Linked DNA regions of Homo sapiens. The protein of the gene in region 2 interacts with the protein of the main gene of each other region in a pairwise test. Each region holds a gene or a part of one and is shown on either strand. Other genes may lie near its edges.

Region 1 (7,928 bases), on a different chromosome or scaffold from region 2:
ATCTCCCCTTGCCTGAAGGTCTTGTAATGGCCTTCCTTGAAGTGGTGGCCCTCTGGATTTACCTCCACTGCCTCTCATTGCTGGTAGACTCAAGTTCAAACAGGCTACAGAGAATGAAGTACAAAGCCTTTCCCATGAGACAGTGGTATGATACACACCAAAACAATTTCATGATGTTGCCAATTTACATATACAGAAACCTGGGGAAATGTATGGACATGGATCCCAAAGGTGTGAGATGAGGACAGAAGAAATATAAAGTCATATTAGGCTGAATCTATTTATAAGGGCCAACTAAGCAGAGATTCCTGATTCAATGTCCTAGCTTGAGTGAGTCTAACAGTTTGTTCAGTTGGTTGATATCAACTTCTAGATGAAGTTGGCACACTGTAGAAGAGGTATCAAATGGCTAAGGAAGGCTAGAATGCTAGGGTAGACTTGCCATGGAAGACCTATTTACCTGCCCCTGTAATATGTGCCCAGGTTAGTTCTAGAAGACACTTCCTTCATCAAGCCTATGAGAAATGCATTCAAGAGGAAAGCCCTGATATCCTTGAAGAACTCGATGGTGGCTATTCTCTGTAGGCCCGAAATGACGGAGGGAACTTATGCTATCAAGCTGGGCTCCCAAAATTCAATGGGGATGATGTGACAAGTAGGTGTGGTTACCATAATGGCTCATGAAAAATGTGAACATGGCGAGAGGGATGGAGGTTGGACAGGGGCTTAGTAACATGGATTTCCATTCCCTAAAACCAATCTGACTACAGCCATTGCTGAGTGCCCAACCTGCCAACAGCAGAGACCAACACTGAGCCCCCAATATGAAAACCAACTAGCCACCTAGTGCCAGGGTAATCACATAGGGGCATTACTTTGTTCTTACTGGAATATCCATTTACTGTGACATAGATTTGCTTTCTCTGCCCACAATGCTTCTGCCAAAATCAACATCTCTGAACTTATAGAATGCTTTGGCATTCCATATAGCATTGCTTCTGACAAAAGAATTATTTCACAGCAAGTAAAGAACAGCAATGGGCTCAGGCTCATGGTATTCACTGGTCTTACCATTACCCTGAAGCAGCTGGCTTGAAAGAACAGTAGGATGACCTTTTGAAGACTTAATTATGGCACTAGCTGGATAGTAACATGTTGCAGGGCATGGGTAATGTCCTTCAGATGCAAGATGTGCTCTAAACCGGCAACCAACATATGGTGCTGGGAGAAATCCCAAACCAGGATTTGTGGGTCAGAGGGTAGAAATGAGAACAGATCTCCTCAATATAACACATAGTGTTTCTCTAGCAAAATTTTTGCTTCCTATCTCGGTAACTTTGTGCTCTGCTGATCTAGAGATACTAGAGTTCCCAAGAGTGAACTATTTCCACATGAGACACAGCAGTGGTTTCACTGAACTGGCAGTTAAGACTGTCGCTGGCTACTTGGGCTTCTCTCACCAGTGAATCAATAGGCACTGAAGAGTATTATCAGACTCTCTGGGTGACTGATCCTGACTGTCAGGGGGATAATGGGAACAACATGGTATTTCCATATCCTGTGATTAAAATCAATAGCAAAACTACAACTAAATAAAGGAAGGACTGATAATGGTCCAGACCAGGAACAAGTGGGCACTGAATTTTCACAAAGTATAAAGATCTGTGTAACCAGCATCCAGATGAAGAAATAGAACACTGGCCGGGCACGGTGGCTCACATCTGTAATCCCAGCACTTTGGGAGGCTGAGGCGGGTGGATCACCCAAGGTCAGGAGTTTGAGACCAGCCAGCCTGACCAACATGGTGAAACCCTGTCTCTATTAAAAATACAAAATTTGCTCGGCATGGTGGCACATGCCTGTAATCCCAGCTACTTGGGAGGCTGAGGCAGGAGAATCGTTTGAACTGGGAGGCAGAGGTTGCAATGAGCCAAGATCATGCTACTGCACTCCAGTCTGGGCAACAATAGTGAAATTCAATCTCAAAAAAAAAGAAAATAAATAGAACACTGCTACCACCACAGAAGTTCCCGTCATGCCCTTTGCCACTCATTAACCACCCCCAAGCATTCTCCTGACTTCTAGTAGCATAGATAAGTTTGCCTTGTTTTTTTATTTTTTTATTTTTTTGAGACAAGAGTCTCACTCTGTCACCCAGGCTGGAGTGCAGTGGCGCAACTTTATTCTACTGTTGGTAGACATTCTGGTAGTTTCTGATTTGGGGCTATTGCAAATAATGCTGCTGTGAACATTCTGAAACATGTCTCTTGTTAAACACATATGTATATTTGTGTTGGGTATACACTATACCTAGGATAGGAACTGCTGGATCAGAGGGTTAAGCTTAAGTAAATACTGCTTATCCATTTTTCGAAAGTGTTTCTACCAATTTATATGCCCACACTCAGTGGATAAGAGTTCCAGATGCTTCATATTATCATCAACCCTCGGTATTTTCTTTTTCTTTTTCTTTTTCTTTTTCTTTTTTTTTTTTTTTTTGAGACAGAGTTTTGCTCTTGTTGCCCAGGCTGGAGTGCAATGGCTCACTACAACCTCCGCCTCCCAGGCTCAAGCGATTCTCCTGACTCAGCCTCCCAGGTAGCTGGGATTATAGGTGTGCACCACCACACCTGGCTAATTTTGTATTTTTAGTAGAGATGGGGTTTCACGATGTTGGTCAGGCTGGTCTCGAACTCCTGACCTCAAGTGATCCACCCGCCTCAGCCTCACACCTGCCTTGGCCTCCTAAAGTGCTGGGATTTACAGGTGTGAGCCACCGTGCCCAGCCAGCCCTTGGTATTTTCCATCTTCTGGTGCGTGTATAGTGGATCACGATGTGATTTGAATTTGCATTTCCCTGATGACTCACAGAGTTCAGTATGTTTCATACTTTTTTTTTTTTTGAGACAGAGTCTCGCTCTTTCGCCCAGGCTGGAGTGCAGTGGTGCAGTCTTGGCTCACTGCAACCTCCGCCTCCCAGGTTCAAGCAATTCTCCTGCCTCAGCCTCCGAGTAGCTGAGATTACAGGCACCCACCACAACACCCAGCTAGTTTTTGTATTTTTAGTAGAGATGGGGTTTCACCATGTTAGCCAGGCTGGTCTCAAACTCCTGACCTCAAGTGATCTGCCCGCCTTGGCCTCCCAAAGTGCTGGGATTACAGGCATGGGCCACCGCGCCCAGCCACATATGGTTTTAAGCTATTCAGATATTTCCTTTTATAAAGTGCCTAGTTCATGTACTAACCCATCTCAGTGGTCTTTTTAAAGTCTGTTGTAGGGCTGGGTGCGGTGGCTTACGCCTGTAATCCCAGCACTTTGGGAGGCCAAGGCGGGTGGATCACCTGAGGTCAGGAGTTCAAGACCAGCCTGGACAACATGGTGAAACCCCATCTCTACTAAAAATACAAAAAATTAGCTGGGCATGGTGGCGGGTGCCTGTAATCCCAGCTACTCAGGAGGCTGGGGCAGGAGAATCGCTTGAACCCAGGAGGCAGAGGTTGCAGTGAGCCGAGTGCCATTGCACTCCAGCCTGGGCAACAAGAGTGAAACTCCATCTCTAAATAAATAAATAAATGAATAAAAATAAAGTCTGTTATTCGTTTGGCTTTATTTTTGGTATACTTAACAAAAATTAGCTGGGTGTGGTGGCACATGCCTGTAATCCCAGCTACTGAAGCAGGAAAATCGCTGGAACCTGGGAGGCAAAGGTTGCAGTGAGCCAAGATTGTGCCACTGCACTCTAGCCTGGGCAACTCCATCTCAGAAAAAAAAAAAAAAAGGACTACTAAAAGAATGAAAAGGCAGGCCACAGAGTGACAGAGGTTATCTGCTTCTATGTATATTACAACGAAGGACTTGATTCCAAATTATCTATACATAAAACTCTTACAATAAGAAAAACATAGTGACCCAATACAAAAATAAGCAAACCAGTTGAACAGGCACTTCACACAAAAGAGGATATCCAAGTGGCTGATAAGCATGTAAAAAGATGCTCACAATGAACGGTCTTCAGGGAAATAAATGCAAATTAAAACCACATACCTAGGGGATTTGAAACAAGGCAGTTCTGTTAACCTCTCTTGCTGTATTTACTAATATGTAAATTGGAGATATTAATGCTTATGCTCAGGAATTTACAGTCTGAAGAAGGAATAAATGACACAACAGAAAACTGATAATTATGTATGGAAACACAGAATTATATACTAAAAGTCCAAGGTTAGAGACATAGTGGCCATATCTTTTACCCCTAAATCAACTCAAATCAAATCAAATCAAATCCTGAGCTCAAGCGATCCTCCCGCCTCGGCCTCCCACACAAGTACTGGGATGCCAGGCATGAGCCACTGCACCTGGCCAAAAAAAATATTAAAGAAAGAACGAAATTGGTAATCACAGCGCATCTCAAGGCAGGGAAACTAAAGGGCTGAGGCCAGATGGAAAATGTACTTATCACTGTGCTTATAAATAAAATATTTACATTTTAAAACAAACAAACAAAAAGTCCGCGCGGTCCTAGGTGAATCTGGCCGAGGCTTCTGCGTCAAGGACGGCGCGGGTCAGCTGAGGCCAAGACCGCAGGCACTGCCCTACCGCTCTCCAGATCACAGCTCCGCCTCTGCAAGGCCCCGGGGAAACGGGCATCCCTTCTTCAGTGAGCAAAGGAGAAAGACGGAGCCCGGTGGCTGGGTGTTTCGCCCAGGATCACCAGCGAGCTCAGAGTCCTCCCCACGACCGCCCCAGGGTGGGCATTTTTAAAAGCGGAGGAAGGGAGGGAACACACTCTTTGGTGCTGTGCCCACCTTGCCTCGCACAGAGCGGGCGCTCACAGGCTTTGGGGGCCCCGCCCGGACCGCAGTGGGGAGAGGCCGCCCCATGCCCCGCCCCGCCAAATTTAAGAGCCTTCGCCGAGCGCCAGGAGGTTCCCAGACAACCGGTCTTGCTCGCTGCCTTTTGCAGAATCTTCTCACTTCTCCCGAGCTCCCTTCCTTGCGTCCGTCCGGGCAACGGCCGCGTCATGCCTAGCCCCAGGCCGCGAGGCAGCCCGCCACCCGCTCCCTCGGGCTCTCGGGTCCGACCTCCGCGCTCTGGCCGCTCTCCGGCGCCCAGGTCCCCTACTGGCCCGAACACGCCCCGCGCTCCCGGACGCTTCGAGTCCCCTTTCTCGGTCGAGGCCATCCTGGCGAGGCCCGACCCCTGCGCGCCGGCGGCCTCCCAGCCGTCGGGCTCCGCCTGCGTCCACCCGGCCTTCTGGACCGCTGCTTCCCTGTGCGCCACCGGGGGTCTGCCCTGGGCTTGCCCGACATCGTGGCTGCCCGCCTACCTGAGCGTAGGTTTTTACCCTGTGCCAGGGCCGCGCGTGGCTCCCGTCTGCGGCCTGCTGGGCTTCGGCGTCACAGGTACTGCGGTCCCGGCGCCCGCACGCGGGGGACTGGGCGGGGGCTGGAGAGCCTAGGTCGCCACTGCCGGCGCCCCAGTGCAGGAGAGGGCACTGAGTGTGAGAATCACACACGGCTGGAGTGGGAAGGGGCTCTGCCACCGTTTACCTTGCAGTTGAAGCCGAGGACCGCGACAGTCTTGCTGAAAAAGACCCCGGCGCGAGGCTTCCCCCGCACGCTGCTGAGGTGGGAGAGGGTGGGTGTGAGGGCGGCGCAGCGCCTGAATGCGGTGGGCAGGAGGCCAGCGCTGGGGCTGCAAGGGGACCCAGCCCTGCTCCCGGTCTCCGCGTCCCTTGACTCCCTCGCACACCCCGGGGTAGCGCTTAGTGACAGAGACGCTTCCCAAAGCGGCTCTCGACCCGAACCAATGGCCCTGTTTTTTTTTTTTACGGGGTAGGGGGAAGTGGACGCTCCGGGCGGTGCTGTTGAGCGAGGAGCTGTTAGGAGCTGGTCAAGGCTCACACCCCACTACCGCCTCCACTGCTCACGTCTGTGAACTTGAGCTACACACTTCGCTCTGAGCCTGCGTGCATGCAATGCTCTTAAGTAGTGCTTAAGGGCCAGGCACTTAAATCTCATGAGAAAGTAATTGTAAGGTTGGGCGCGGTGGCTCACGCCTGTAATTTCAGCACTTTGGAAGACCGAGGCGGGTGGATCACCTGAAGTCAGGAGTTCAAGGCCAGCCTGGCCAACATGGTGAAACCACATCTTTACTTAAAAGACAAAAAATTGGCCGGGCGCGGTGGCTCACGCCTGTAATCCCAGCACTTTGGGAGGCCGAGACGGGCGGATCACGAGGTCAGGAGATCGAGACCATCCTGGCTAACACGGTGAAACCCCGTCTCTACTAAAAATACAAAAATTAGCCGGGCATGGTGGCGCGTGCCTGTAGTCCCAGCTACACAGGAGGCTGAGGCAGGAGAATGGCGTGAACCCGGGAGGCGGAGCTTGCAGTGAGTCGAGATCGCGCCACTGCACTCCAGCCTGGGCGACAGAGCGAAACTCCGTCTCAAAAAAAAAAAAAAAAAAAAAGACAAAAAATTAGGAGGGCGTGGTGGCGCGCGCTTGTAATCCCAGCTACTCAGGAGGCTAAAGCAGGAGAATCACTTGAACCCGGGAGGTTGAGGTTGCATTAAGCCGAGATTGCGCCACTGCACTCTAGCCTGGGCAACAGAGTGAGACTCCGTCTCAAACAAACAAATCAACAAAAAAAAGTAACTATAGAGGGAACTTTGCCTTCTAGCATTAAACATCCACCTACACGTGCTTTTGCCATTTTTGGTTGCCAGGTTCATGTTTCCCCATGTCCCCACGAAGAAAACAGGAGCAAAGTTAGTCCAAGCCTTATCAACCCATACAAAGATAGTTGTAACACAGTCTTGCCGGGTTCCTACTCCGTGGCACCCACCCCAATCCTGCATTTCCTCACCCCATTTCAGCAGTGCATTAACCCTTGGACTCGCAGCCCCATCTAAATTCAATACCACTGGATCTGGGAGCTGTGCCCATCACTCCCAGTCACCTTTCTCTGAGCTCTTCACACACCTGAGGTCTGAATTACAGTTTACTACTTCATGTTACAGTTGCCTCATTTTCAAGTTAGTTGTTTTCTTTTGTTCTGTTTTGTTTTGTTTTGAGACGGAGTCTCACTCTGTCTCCCAGGCTGGAGTGCAGTGGCGCTATCTCTGCTCACTACAACCTCCTCCTTCCGGTCTCAAGTGATTCTCCTGCCTTAGCCTCTGGAGTGGCTGGAATTACAAGCCCCAGCACCATGCCCGGCTAATTTTTTTTATTTTTTTATTTTTTTTTTTTGAGGCGGAGTCTTGCTCTGTCCTTAGGCTGGAGTGCAGTGGTGCAATCTCGGCTCACTGCAAGCTCCGCCTCCCGGGTTCACGCCATTCTCCTGCCTCAGCCTCCCGAGTAGCTGGTACTGCAGGCACATGCCGCCACACCTGGCTAATTTTTTGTATTTTTAGTAGAGACGGGGTTTCACCATGTTAGCCAGGATGGTCTTGATCTCCTGACCTCGTGATGTATTTCTTTTTCTGTGAACTACTGTTCTTGTATTTTGCCCATATGTATAGTTGGTTATTTAAAACAATCTATTTGTAGATGCTCTTTTCTATTGAGGAAATTAGCCCTGGCTGGGTGCAGTGGCTCACCCCTGTAACTCCCTCACTTTGGGAGGCCAAGGCGGGTGGACTACTTCAGCTCAGGAGTTGAGACCAGCCTGGGCAACATGGCAAAACCCCGTCTCTACTAAAAACACAAAAATTAGCTGGGCATGGTGGTGCGCACCTTGGCGGGGGCTGAAGTGGGAGGATTGCTTGTGCCTGGGAGGCAGAGGTTGCAGTGAGCCGAGGTCAAGCCACTGAACTCCAGCCTGGGCAACAGAACAAGACACTGTCTCAAAAAATTAAAAAAGAAATTAGCCCTTTAACTGTAATGAACTACAAATGTTTTTCTGTGTATTGGCCTTTGACTTT
Region 2 (7,023 bases):
TGCTGCCACGCCCAGCTAATTTTGTATTTTTAGTAGAGACGGGGTTTTTCCATGTTGGTCAGGCTTGTCTTGAACTACTGACCTCAGGTGATCCGCCTACCTCGGCCTCCCAAAGTGCTGGGATTACAGGTGTGAGCCACCACGCCCAGCTACAGTGTCTTTCATTATACTGAAATTTCTCCTTTTGGCCAGGTGCGGTGGCTTATGCCTGTAATCTCAGCATTTGGGGAGGCCAAGGCGGGTGAATCATCTGAGGTCAGGAGCTTGAGACCAGCCTGGCCAACAAGGTGTCTCTACTAAAAATACTAAAAATACAAAAATTAGCCGGGCGTGGTGGTAGGCGTCTGTAATCCCAGCTGCTCATGAGGCTGAGGCAGGAGAATCGCCCAACCCAGGAGGCAGAGGTTGCAGTGAGCCGAGATTGCACCACTGTACTCCAGGCTGCGCAATGAAGCGAGACTCCATCTCAGAAAAAAAAAAGAGGAGTTGTGATCTTTCAAAAAAAGACCCTGTCTTTTTTTTTTTTTTTTTTTTTTTTTTTTTTTGAGAAGGAGTCTTGCTCTGTTGCCCAGGCTAGAGTACAGTGGCGTGATCTGGGCTCACTGCAACCTCTGCCTCCCAGATCCAAACGATTCTCCTGCCTCAGCCTCCTGAGTAGCTGGGACTACAGGTGCCCACCACCATGCCAAGCTAATTTTTGTTTTGTTTTGTTTTGTTTTGTTTTTGAGATGGAGTCTTGCTCTATCCCCCAGGTTGGAGTGGTGCAGTGGCACGATCTCGGCTCACTGCAACCTCTGCCTCCCAGGTTCAAGCAATTCTCCTGCCTCAGGCCCAGGCTAGAGTACAGTGGCGTGATCTGGGCTCACTGCAACCTCTGCCTCCCAGATCCAAACGATTCTCCCGCCTCAGCCTCCTGAGTAGCTGGGACTACAGGTGCCCACCACCATGCCAAGCTAATTTTTGTTTTGTTTTGTTTTGTTTTTGAGATGGAGTCTTGCTCTATCCCCCAGGCTGGAGTGCAGTGGCACGATCTCAGCTCACTGCAACCTCTGCCTCCCAGGTTCAAGCAATTCTCCTGCCTCAGGCTCCCAAGTAGCTGGGACTACAGGTGCATGCCACCGTGCCCGGCTAATTTTTTGTATTTTAGTAGAGACCGGGTTTCACTGTGTTGCCCAGGCTGGTCTCGAACTCCTGAGCTCAGACAATCCACCCGCCTCGGCCTCCCAAAGCGCTACAATTACAGGCGTGAGCCACCGCGCCTGGCCTAATTTTTGTATTTTTAGTAGAGACGGGGTTTCACCATCTTGGCCAGGCTGGTCTCGAACTCCTGACCTCAGGTGATCCGCCCTCCTCAGCCTCCCAAAGTGGTGGGATTACAGGCATGAGCCACTGCCCCTGGCCTAATTTTTGTTTTTAGTAGAGATGGGGTTTCACCATGTTGGGCAGGCTGGTCTCGAACTCCTGACCTCAGGTGATCCGCCTTCCTCCGCCTCCCAAAATGGTGGGATTACAGGCATGAGCCACTGCCCCTGGCCTAATTTTTGTTTTTAGTAGAGATGGGGTTTCACCATGTTGGGCAGGCTGGTCTCGAACTCCTGACCTCAGGTGATCCGCCCTCCTCAGCCTCCCAAAGTGGTGGGATTACAGGCATGAGCCACTGCCCCCGGCCTTTTTTTTTTTTTTTTTTAAGTGAGGTTTGTTGAGATATAATTTACATCCAATAAAATAAACTCTTTTCAGGACATTTGTGTTGACAAATGACAGGGCCAGCTAACCATAATGAAGATAAACCCTATTTCCATCACTCAAAACAGCTCCCTTGTAGTCTGTCCCCCCACCGCCGGCCCTTGAGACTGCCAATCTGCCCTCTGCCCTGTAGCTCTGGAAACTCGGCTCTGTGGACCCACACAGTGCCTGGGCTTTTGAGTCTGTGCCTTGGCCTTAGCCTGGATGAATCCCACCAGCACCCTGCTGTGTGCGTCCATGGTGCCTCCTTTCTCCCATTGCTCGAAGACCCCATCGGGTCTCTTCTTGATTTCAGACCCTGGCCGGCTCCTGTGGGAAGTTTGCCCCCTTTGAAATTAAAGAGCACATGGTCCTGGCCCCTCGGCGTCGGACCGCTTTCCATCCAGACCTCTGCAGTCAGCTGGACCAGCTCCTCCAGCAGCAGAGCGGCGAGTTCTCCTTCTTGAAAGACCTCAAAGGCCGGCAGCCCCTGAGGTCCGGACCCACGCACGTTTCCACCCGGAATGCAGATATTTTTAACAGGTCAGAGCCTGAGGAGGTCGGCCTTCACCCACTAGTGATGCTGGAGGCCAGCATCCTGAACCCTGGGGTCCCCGGGGTGGGAGCTCTGGGTCCTTCTGTTGCTTGCTTCCTAGTGCCCTCGGGCCCTGGGCTTCGGTGCTGGCTCAGGCCTCTCTCCACCTGGCCTTCCTGTAAGCTCCTGAAGTCTTCCTCTCCCTGTCTTCCCAGCTCCTCGTGGAGGAATCTTATTTCCCTGCTGGTCTCCAGTGAAGGATACCCCCCAACACCTCGCTCTTGCAAATCTCATTCCACAGAACCTCCCTTGCTAAAAATGCTCTGGGGCTGCACCTGGGCAGCTGTCCTCCCTCTCACCCTGCAGGCTGCACCCTCCTCCATCTGTCCCTTCAGTCCATGTTCCTGACCTTTCTTTGGGGACAGGCAGTGCTGCTTTTTAACAAATGCCCATCTTTCTAGAATTGTTAGGCCAGCTTCACAGGGAGGTTCCTGGGAGGTTTGTGAGCAGGTCTGTAAGGCAGCGTGATCCTGAGCCTGGGGTTTTCCTTCTCAGTGATGTCGTCATCGTGGAGCGTGGGAAGGGCGACGGTGTTCCCGAGAGGAGGAAGTTTGGCAGGATGAAGCTCCTGCAGTTCTGTGAGAACCACCGGCCTGCCTACTGGGGTACCTGGAATAAGAAGACGGCACTCATCCGCGCGCGAGACCCCTGGGCCCAGGACACGGTGAGCTAGCCCCAGAGTGCCTCCGTCCCCGTACCTCCTCACTGTGCCCCTTTCCTCCAGCCCCAAAGACAGTTGTGAGTCCCATGTGTTTCTTTTCTCAGAAGCTCCTGGACTATGAGGTGGACAGTGATGAGGAGTGGGAAGAAGAGGAGCCTGGGGAGTCCCTGTCCCACAGTGAGGGGGTAAGGATGTGCCCCAGCTGTCTTCACTCACAGACGGCTTGTGTTTGAGTCTCTGTCCCACAGTGAGGGGCTAAGGATGCAGCCCAGCTGTGTTCACTCACTGACAGCTGGTGTTTGACCTGCTGTGTGGTCTGAAACCTGAACGCACCTCAACATCCAGACTTCCAGCTTCTCTCGAAAAATCTCATCTGGTGACACTCGCCCACGTGGCTGCTGGGGATGGGATCCCGTCCGCATCTGCACCGTGGCCCCACAGCCCCCTCTTGCCTCCTGCGGGCCTGCTGCACACCATTTCCTCCTGACTGCCCAGCTGCTGTGACCTAGTGGGCTTTCTGCCGATGCTCACCGTGTCTGTCGGGAGGCCATGCAAAGCAGATGTTCACAGCTTTACATTTTTTTGTTTCTTTAAGATGGAGTCTCACTCTATCACTCAGGCTGGAGTGCAGTGGCGCGATTTCGGCTCACTGCAACCTCTGCCTCCCAGGCTCAAGTGATAGTCCTGCCCCAGCCTCCCTAGTAGCTGGGATTATAGGTGCGTGCCACCATGCCCAGCCAAGATTTGTATTTTTAGTAGAGACAGAGTTTTACCATGTTGGCCAGGCTGGTCTCAAACTCCTGACTTCAGATGATCCGCCCACCTCAGCCTCCCAAAGTGCTGGGATTAGAGGTGTGAGCCACTGCGCCTGGCCTACTTTGTTTTTAATAAGGCACACACTCTGCTTTTCTATCTGATGAACTCTTTTTTTTTTCTCCTTTTGAGGATGATGATGACGACATGGGAGAGGATGAAGATGAGGACGATGGTTTCTTTGTGCCCCATGGGTACCTGTCTGAGGACGAAGGTGTGACAGAGGTGAGGGAGTGAAGGGGGAGGTCACCGGCTCAGCAAAAGTTCATTTCTGGACTGGTGCTCAGTGGCCTGACCTGGGAGGGTGACGGGGGTCCCAGCCCAACCATACGAGATTTGGACTGCATTCCAAGCACGCAAGCTCACTCGTGGGAACAGCTGGGCCTGAACTTGGTATTACCTGGGAGGGTGGCAGACGTAGGAGGAGCTTGCAAGCGAGGGGAGCCATAGGAGCAGACACCCTGGTGAGGGAGCGTGGCCATGGTCTGTGGGTTAGAAGGCTGGAAACCACCCGAGCTGACATACAGTCAGCATGCAGCAAGACATGTGCATTGTAAGTGTTGAGTTTGATGACGTAACAATCAAGTGAATGTGGGCAACCACCGCCCGAAATAAAACAGAACTTCCCTATCTCTCCAGAAGATTGCCCACGTCTCTGCAGGCGAACCTGCCTGCCACCCCTTTCCAGATTCCATAAGGTTGTGGAACTGTCTTTTTTTTTTTTTTTCTTGAGACGGATTCTCATTCTGTTACCCAGGCTGGAGTGCAATGGCCCGGTGTTGGCTCACTGCAACCTCTGCCTCCCGGGTTCAAGCAATTCTCCTGCCTCGGCCTCCCAAGTAGCTGGGACTACAGGCGTGTGCCACCACACCTGGCTAATTTTTGTATTTTTAGTAGAGACGGGAGTTCATTATGTTGGCCAGGCTGGTCTTGAACTCCTGACCTCCAGTGATCCACCCGCCTCGGCCTCCCAGAGTGCTGGGATTACAGGCATGAGCCACCGAGCCCGGCAGGAACTTGCTTTCAAGCAAGTTGTTTTTGGTCCTGTTTTGTTTTGAAGGCCTGTCGTTTGGGAAGTGGGGATTTGGTGGGACTGTCTCATGGTTGGACTGGAGGCCTAGGCATTCCTTGTGCATATCTGACCACCGAGGCCTGAACTGTCAGTCAGAGAGTGGTCTCAGGCCCTGCATGTGTCTGCCAGATGCCTGGGCCATGTGGGTAGACACCCAACCCTGTTAAACGGCTCCACGATCACACATTCACCAGAAAATTCAGAGGGGTGTTAAAAGAGGCCTCATGGGTGAGTTCAGAAATATCTGTGACGCTCCCAAAGGAGACCAGGTGTGAATTATTCCATCTGGAAGAGGGGCAGCCAGCGCATGGTGTGCTCTGCCCTGGCCCTGACACTGTGGGAAGTTTTGTGCCCCTGTCCTTTCCTCTTGCTCCCCAGCTGGCTGGGGACTGGTTCCTCAAAAGAGTGCCCGGGCATAGGGGAGCAAGAACCCCAAATAAACTTCTGCTTTCTAAACCACAAGGAGTGTGCCGACCCTGAGAACCATAAGGTCCGCCAGAAACTGAAGGCCAAGGAGTGGGACGAGTTCCTGGCTAAGGGGAAGCGCTTTCGCGTCCTGCAACCTGTGAAGATCGGCTGCGTGTGGGCGGCTGACAGAGACTGCGCAGGCGATGACCTGAAGGTACTGCAGCAGTTCGCAGCCTGCTTCCTGGAGACCCTGCCGGCCCAGGAGGAGCAGACGCCCAAGGCCTCCAAGCGGGAGAGGAGAGACGAGCAGAGTGAGTGTGGGCGGGGCCAGGCCACCCACCTGTTCCTGGGCCCAGCTAATTCCAGGGCTGAGGGCAAGAGTCACAGGCTAGTGGGTCCGTGATGCAAATGTTCTTTCCACAAATAACAGAGGCCAGCCCTTTTCCTGTACATGTCCGTACGTTCAATGATGTCCCTAGCAGCAGGACGAGGCAGGTCCCTTAATTGGCTTGTTTTATCAACCAGGACACAGGCACAGAGAGTGCTGGAGTGGGGGCTGTGCTTTCTCAAAAGCCAGGGAGGGGCCGGGCACAGTGCCTCATGCCTGTGATGCCAGCACTTTGGGAGGCCAAGGTGGGAGGATCGCTTGAGCCTAGTGCTTCGACACCAGCCTGGGCAACATGGCAAAACCCCATCTCTGCAGAAAATGCAAAATTACCTGGGTGTGGTATCACGCACCTGTGATCCCAGCTACTCAAGAGGCTGAGGTGGGAGGATTGCTTGAGCCTAGGAGTTTCAGACCACAGTGAGCCATGATCCTGCCACTGCACTCCAGCCTGGGTGACAGAGCAAGACCCTGTCTAAAAAAAAAAAAAAACTCAAAAAACTGGGGAGGGACCATGGCACACAAGGAGAGCAGGGCAGTCATTTGGGTAGGAACAGCAGGCATTTGAAGTCAGCCCTGGCAACACACGTGCCCGGCCAAGGCTCACTTCTGGGCAGGTGCGTAGGTGCTACCCTGTCTTACACCCGCCCTCATGAGGCCACCTATCCCCGAAGCTGGCCATGCCCCAAGCCTCGGTGGCAATGAGCTTGTGTATGTGTTTTGTTTTTTGGCCTGTGGTGATGGGTGGCTCCCCAAGCCTCATGCCCACCCATGTTCCCTCCTGCCAGTCCTGGCCCAGCTGCTGCCGCTCCTGCACGGCAATGTGAACGGGAGCAAGGTCATCATCCGGGAGTTCCAGGAGCACTGCCGCCGGGGACTGCTCAGCAACCACACCGGCAGCCCGCGGAGCCCCTCCACCACCTACCTGCACACCCCCACCCCCAGCGAGGATGCCGCCATCCCCTCTAAGTCCCGGCTCAAGCGGCTCATTTCCGAGAACTCAGTGTATGAGAAGCGGCCTGACTTCAGGATGTGCTGGTACGTGCACCCGCAGGTGCTACAGAGCTTCCAGCAGGAGCACCTGCCCGTGCCGTGCCAGTGGAGCTATGTGACATCGGTGCCCTCGGCCCCCAAAGAGGACAGTGGCAGCGTCCCCTCCACGGGGCCCAGCCAGGGCACTCCCATCTCGCTGAAGAGGAAGTCAGCGGGCAGCATGTGCATCACCCAATTCATGAAGAAGCGCAGGCACGACGGCCAGGTGAGGTGGGGTGGGCAGGTGGGGGCCTCTGCAGGGCTTTTCTTTTTTTGTTTGTTTTTTGTTGTTTTGTTTTTTTTTCGAGATGGAGTCCTGCTCTGTCACCCAG
Region 3 (7,068 bases), about 36 Mb from region 2:
AGGTCAGGAGTTTGAGGCCAGCCTGGCTAACATGGTGAAACCCTGTCTCTACTAAACATACAAAAATTAGCCAGGCATAGTGGCATGCACCTGTATCCTAGCTACTCAGGAGGCTGAGGCAGGAGAATCCTTGAACCCGGGAGGCGGAAGTTGAAGTGAGCCAAGACCACGCCATTACACACCAGCCTGGGCGACAGAGCAAGACTCCATCTCAAAAAAAAAAAAAAAAAAAAAAAAAACTGGCCAAGTGCGGTGGCTCACGCCTGTAATCCCAGCACTTTGGGAGGCAAAGGCGGGCGGATCACGAGGTCAGGAGATTGAGACCATCCTGGCTAACATGGTGAAACCCCGTCTCTACTAAAAATACAAAAAAAAAAAAAAGGAAAAAAAATTAGCCGGGCGAGGTGGCGGGCACCTGTAGTCCCAGCTATTCAGGAGGCTGAGGCAGGAGAATGGCATGAACCCAGGAGGCGGAGCTTGCAGTGAGCCGAGATCGTGCCACTGCACTCCAGCCTGGGCGACAAAGTGAGACTCCGTCTCAAAAAAAAAAAAAAAAAAATCACAAAACCTCCTGGGCTTAAGTTCCCGCCTTGGCCTCCCAAAGTGCCAGCATTACAGGCATGAGCCACCACATACATCTTGGAGATAGGATCTTCACAGGCTCTAAAGCATCATCCCAAAGGTTATTTGCTAACTAGAAAGGATAAATTTATTTTACGATGTAACCCTCACAATCTTAATCACGTGATGAAACTCTGCATTACCAATGGTGGGACATCCTGACACTGGTGCCAACTACTATAATGCGTTAGGATTAGGAAGTACATTAATAAGGATTAGGACACACCCTGTGGAGTCTCCCTGTTCACTGCATAAGCAGAATCTCACCAGGCCCCTAGACCCAACCTCCAGCTTATTGGAAAAAGAGAGGAACAAATTAAACACAGTCAGACAAATCCAGAATGTGGGACACTATGCAGCATGACTAGTCTGTTTTGCCAGAAATTCAATGTCAACAAAACATCAAAAAGGATTTGAGGCTGAGTGTGGTGGCTCATGCCTGTAATCCCAGCACTTTGGGAGGCCAAAGCGGGTGGATCACCTGAGGTCAGGAGTTTGAGACCAGCCTGGCCAACATGGCGAAACCCTGTCTCTACTAAAAACACAAGAAAATTAGCCAGGCGTGGTGGCGCACGCCAATAATCCCAGCTACTCGGGAGGCTGAGGCAGGAGAATCACTTTAACCCGGAAATGGAGGTTGCAGTGAGCCAAGATCATGCCACTGCACTCCAGCCTGGGCGACAGAGCAAGACTCTGTCTCAAAAAAAAAAAAAAAAAAAAAAGGGATTTGGGTGGGGGAATATTCGAGAATAAAATATAGTATGTAATTTCTTCATTACAACCAAATTAGCATGTGAACCTTCATTGGATCCTGATTTTGGAGAAAAGAAAGCAACTATAAAGGATATTCTTGGGTCAGTTGGAGAGATTTGATTAGGTGATATTGTGGAATTCTTGATTCTATTAGATGTGAAATAGTATTTTTGTGGCTTGTACATGAATGTCCTTATTCTTTTTTTTTTTTAGGTGGAGTTTGCTCTTGTTGCCCAGGCTGGAGTGCAATGACGCAATCTCAGCTCACTGCAACCTCCACCTCCTGGGTTCAAGCAATTCTCCTGTCTCAGCCTCCTGAGTAGCTGGGATTACAGGCACATGCCACCATGCCCGGCTAATTTTTGTATTATTAGTAGAGACGGGGTTTCATCATATTGGTTAGCCTGGTCTCGAACTCCTGACCTCCGGTGATCCACTCGCCTTAGCCTCCCAAAGTGCTGGGATTACAGGTGTGAGCCAACGCACAGGGCCTAATGTCCTTATTCTTAAGAGATGCCTCCTGAGCTGTTAAGGGTAGAATATCAAGATGCTTGCAATTACTCTCCAAAGGTTTAGCAAAAGAAACAATATATACACATATGTAGATAAAGGGAACTTAGCACAATGTTACCAACTACTACTTTTTTCTTTTTTTTTTTTTTTGATACAGGGTCTTGTTCTGTTACTCAGACTAGAGTGCAGCGGCATGAACATGGCTCACTGCAGCCTTGACCTCCTGGGCTCAAGGAATCCTCCCACCTTAGCCCCACAAGCAGCTGGGACCACAAGAACATGCTACCACGCCTGGCTAATCCTTTTTTTTTTTTTTTTTTGAGACAGAGTCTTGCTCTGTTGCCCAGTCTGGAGTGCAGTGGCGCTGTCTTGGATCACTGCAACCTCTGCCTCCTGGGTTCAAGCTATTCTCCTGCCTCAGCCTCCTGAGTAGCTGGGATTACAGGCGCCTGCCACCACACCTGGCTGATTTTTTGTATTTTTAGTAGAGACAGGGTTTTACCATGTTGGCCAGGCTGGTCTCGAACTCCTGACCTCGTGATCTGCCCACCTCGGCCTCCCAAAATGCTGAGATTACAGGCGTGAGCCACCACGCCCGGCCCACGCCTGGCTAATTCTTAAATTTTTTTGTAGTGATGAGATCTCACTGTGTTGCCCAGGCTGGACTCAAGTGAACTCCTGGACTCAAGTGACCCTCCTGCCTTGGCCTCCCAAAGTACTGGATTACAGTTGTTGCCTAGCTAACAACTATCAATTAAATCTAGGTGAGAGAGTATTCAGGCGTGAGCCACTGCATCCGGCCATGGGAGGAGTATTATACCCTGTCTACCTCTAGCCCCATCCTGCATGTCTATCCACCTTGAACTAAGAGCTTGTCTTATTACAACAGCTATTACTACTAACAAAGAAACAACGTTGCTAACCAGGCATGGTGGTGTGCGCCTGTAGTCCCAGCTGCTTGGGGGTCTGAGGCAGGAGGATGGCTTGAACCTGGGAGGCTGCAGTGAGCCGAGATGGCACCCCTGCACTTCAGCCTGGGTGACAGAGCGAGACCCTGTCTCAAAAGCAAAATAAAATAAAATAAAAAGTAAAGAAAAAAATAATAAGCAGCTGGGCGCGGTAGCTCACGCCTGTAATCCCAACACTCAGGGGCCGAGGAGGGCGGATCACCTGAGGTGAGGAGTTTGAGACCTGCCTGGCTAACATGGTGAAACCCCATCTCTACTAAAAATACAAAAATTAACCGGGCGTGGTGGCGCACGCCTGTAGTCCCAGCTACTCGGGAGGCTGAGGCAGGATAATTGCTTGAACCTGGGAGGCGGAGGTTACAGTGAACCGAGATCGTGCCCCTGCACTCCAGCCTGGGCGACGGAGTGAGAATCTGTCTCAAATAAATAAATAAATAAATAAATAAAATGAAAAAAAAAAAAAAAACACAAAACATGTTGCACCCCACTCTGAAGATTTTTCATGAATTAATTTAATCCTTAAAAACAATCCTGTAAACTAGGCGCTATTTTCTCTCATTTTAAAGGAGAAACAGACCAGAAGGGATTAAAACACTTGCCGCAGGTCACACAGCTGCTTAGGGAATGGAGCCCGGGATGTGATTCCGTTGGTATCGCACTCCCACCTCACTCCCGCCTTTAACCACAATTAAGTCCAACTGTCCAGCATTGCTTGAGTGTGGTATTGTGTTCTTATAGATACGATCCTACTTAAAGTATCCTGTCAAGAGGTAGGCAAGACGATCCCCATTTAACTTTGTGTAGCTTGAAGAGGTTGATCATTTTTCCAAGGTCACGCATCCAGTGAGTGGGGAATCCGGAGTCGGAATTTGAACCCGGGCATTATCTGTAGTGTAGACCCCTGTCGGGGCTGGATGTGTAAGAAGCTTAATTGCCGGGTTTGGCAGGTGCATGGGTAGTTGTGAGGGGCTCGTATTTTGAGAGGCAAAAGCCCCCACTCGCCACCGTTCCCCGGAGTAAAAAGCCACCTCTTTCCACCCCTCACTCGCGCAGCTGCCCGGGCATGCGCCCTGAAGCCCCTCCTTCAGAATCCGCCCCCTACAAGCTCCGCCCATCACCATGCAGGGCCAATCCCTGGGGCGGAGGGCGGGGCAGCCACGAGAGTGGGCGGTCGCTAAGGGTAGTTAGGAGTCTGGAGTCGTGAGCCGGAGTCAGAACTGCGTCTCGCGACCCAGGCGCGGGTTTCCGGAGGACAGCCAACAAGCGATGCTGCCGCCGCCGTTTCCTGATTGGTTGTGGGTGGCTACCTCTTCGTTCTGATTGGCCGCTAGTGAGCAAGGTATGTAAATGAAGGGGCCTGGGAACAGAAGGGCTACCAGCGGCCGGGTCCTTCACAGAGTTCGATCCCTGGGTCCGACAGGTGCCCGCCGGGGCTGCCCGGGATCGAGACGCACGGACCTCTACGTGCTGTCTGCCCCGGCCGGGCCGGGTGAATCACGCCGCAGTCCGAGAAGGGGGCGGAGGCGCCGGCTTCTTGGCTCCGGCTGCGTGACTCACCCGCCCCCGCCGCCGCCGCTTCGGGAGGAGCCGCCTCCACTGCCGGAAGCGAGCGGAGGCCGGGCGCAGAGAACAGCCCGCCAGGGGTCCCGGCTCGCACGGCGCCGGGAGGCCGGCAGGAATCACAGCCGGGAATCGGGGCAGTAGAAGGGGTCCTGGGGTCAGAGGGGCCAGAATCCCCGGGGGAAAGCCGGCCTGGGCACCGCTAGGGGGCGCCGGGACCCGGGGGCGGAGTCGGGGGTGGGGGCGGAATTCCTGCGGTTCCGGACTCCCCGGACTGCGGGGAAGGGGACGAAGACCCTGTTTTGAGTAGTGTGGTGGGCCATTCTTAAAATCTTGCTAGGCAGGGTTCCGAAACTGGACTCTACAGTCTTCCTGGCCCAAAAAAGTAGGTAGCGCCAGGAGTCCAAAACTCCAGCCCTACCCCCGCCACTCCAAGAACAGTGGACCCTCAAACTTATCTCAGTGACTGAACCCGGTGCCGATCACGATTTCCCGACAAGCCCTGTCTATTCTGCCTCCCAAATAAGTCCTGACTCGACCGACTTCCTTCCATGCCACTACCAGCTCCTACTCCAGGCCATCACCATCGTCCGTCCCAAACGAGTACAGCCTACCAGTGGGTCTCAGATCCCCCCTCTTTTTGCCCCCCACAGTCTTCCTCGAAGCAGCCATGGGGGGGATCTTCCGGAAACCTAATCAGCTCACAGCACCATTCCCTCCCTGCTCAAATTCCTTTAATGACTGCCCACCACACTCAGGATAAAATCCAAACTCCCTACTTCTGCATATGTGGCTTTCTGTGACCTGGCTTGTGCCCGTTCCCCTAGCTGCTCCCCAATCTGGTCTCCTACCATGTCACTCTCTGTGTGCCACCCATGCTGGTCTCTTTCCAGTTCAAGCCCATCCAGCCTCTGGGCTTTTCTCTGCCTTTTTTTGTTGTTCCCTCCTCCCGGAATGCTTTTCCCAGGGTCTCCCATGGCTGACTTCTCTGGCCTGAGGGCTCCATTCAAATGTCACCTCCTTACAGGAGCCTTCTCTGATGATCTAAAAGGTCTCTAGGAACTTTTAGTGTCTTCCTGTAATTCTCTGTACATTTCCTGTGTTTCCTTATTTATTTACTGTTTGAAACATAGTCATAGTAGACAATAAATATTAAACTACGTGAAACTAGTTTAGTATTTATAATATTATAACTTATTTAGATATAATTATGTTATTATAATAAAATATGTGAAACAGCTGCTTTTGTAGGGGAAAAAGTTGAATATTGGCCATTCCACATGGTTCACTGAAGAAATAATAATGTTATCATTAAGTGTACTTATTGGCAGGGTGAGGCAGCTCACACTTGTAATCTCAGTACTTTGGGAGGCTGAGGAAGGAGGATGGCTTGAGGCAAGGAGTTTGAGACCACCCTGGGCAACATAGTGAGACCATGTCTCTACAAAAAAATAAAAGGGAAAAAAAAAAGTACTTATTGACTGAGGGGGGAGGATCGCTTCAGGCCAGGAGTTTGAGACCAGCCTGGGCAATATAGTGAGACCCCATCTTTATTTTTTCAGATAAAAAAGTCTATAAATATACTTAAATATAAAATTTAAAATTTAAGAAGTCTATAGGCCAGGCGCGGTGGCTCACGCATGTAATCCCAGCACTTTGTGAGGCAGAGGTGGGCGGATCACTTGAGGTCCAGGAGGTCGAGACCAGCCTGGCCAACATGGTGAAACCATGCTTCTTCTAAAAATATAAAAATTAGCCGGGTGTGGTGGCATGTGCCTGTAATCCTAGCTTTTGGGGAGGCTGAGGCACGAGAATCATTTGAACCTGTGAGGCAGAGGTTGCAATGAGCTGAGATCACGGCATTACACTCCAGCCTGGGCAACAGAGCGAGACTCCATCTCAAAAAAAATCTATAAATATACATATACAGTTAAATAAAAATTGTCTATATCTTTAAAGTTCCCTAAGAAAAGCTAGGCACAGAGAGGTTAAGTGACTTCCCCAAGATCCTACCTGCAGCAACTGTCAGATCCAGGCTTTGAACTTAACATTTGTTTTCTATAACTGACTATAACTCCATAACTCCCTGCCCTCTGCAGATGCTGAGCAAGGGTCTGAAGCGGAAACGGGAGGAGGAGGAGGAGAAGGAACCTCTGGCAGTCGACTCCTGGTGGCTAGATCCTGGCCACACAGCGGTGGCACAGGCACCCCCGGCCGTGGCCTCTAGCTCCCTCTTTGACCTCTCAGTGCTCAAGCTCCACCACAGCCTGCAGCAGAGTGAGCCGGACCTGCGGCACCTGGTGCTGGTCGTGAACACTCTGCGGCGCATCCAGGCGTCCATGGCACCCGCGGCTGCCCTGCCACCTGTGCCTAGCCCACCTGCAGCCCCCAGTGTGGCTGACAACTTACTGGCAAGCTCGGACGCTGCCCTTTCAGCCTCCATGGCCAGCCTCCTGGAGGACCTCAGCCACATTGAGGGCCTGAGTCAGGCTCCCCAACCCTTGGCAGACGAGGGGCCACCAGGCCGTAGCATCGGGGGAGCAGCGCCCAGCCTGGGTGCCTTGGACCTGCTGGGCCCAGCCACTGGCTGTCTACTGGACGATGGGCTTGAGGGCCTGTTTGAGGATATTGACACCTCTATGTATGACAATGA

Evidence for each region. The genes of interacting proteins can lie anywhere in the genome.
Region 1: the proteins of CHAF1A (region 2) and NOTO interact in binary tests that used the Homo sapiens proteins (3 or more experiments, as listed by UniProt).
Region 3: the proteins of CHAF1A (region 2) and SERTAD1 interact in binary tests that used the Homo sapiens proteins (3 or more experiments, as listed by UniProt).

The regions. Positions count from the first base shown.
Region 1 is NC_000002.12:73,197,646-73,205,573, forward strand, and holds the start of NOTO (homeobox protein notochord), read left to right. Parts: upstream 1-4,928; 5' UTR 4,929-5,021; coding exon 5,022-5,403; intron 5,404-7,928. UniProt on the Homo sapiens protein: Transcription regulator acting downstream of both FOXA2 and Brachyury (T) during notochord development. Required for node morphogenesis.
Region 2 is NC_000019.10:4,426,623-4,433,645, forward strand, and holds part of CHAF1A (chromatin assembly factor 1 subunit A), read left to right. Parts: intron 1-2,041; coding exon 2,042-2,268; intron 2,269-2,815; coding exon 2,816-2,984; intron 2,985-3,085; coding exon 3,086-3,166; intron 3,167-3,926; coding exon 3,927-4,019; intron 4,020-5,329; coding exon 5,330-5,585; intron 5,586-6,447; coding exon 6,448-6,917; intron 6,918-7,023. UniProt on the Homo sapiens protein: Acts as a component of the histone chaperone complex chromatin assembly factor 1 (CAF-1), which assembles histone octamers onto DNA during replication and repair.
Region 3 is NC_000019.10:40,422,993-40,430,060, reverse strand, and holds the start of SERTAD1 (SERTA domain-containing protein 1), read left to right. Parts: upstream 1-4,068; 5' UTR 4,069-4,194; intron 4,195-6,514; coding exon 6,515-7,068. UniProt on the Homo sapiens protein: Acts at E2F-responsive promoters as coregulator to integrate signals provided by PHD- and/or bromodomain-containing transcription factors. Stimulates E2F1/TFDP1 transcriptional activity.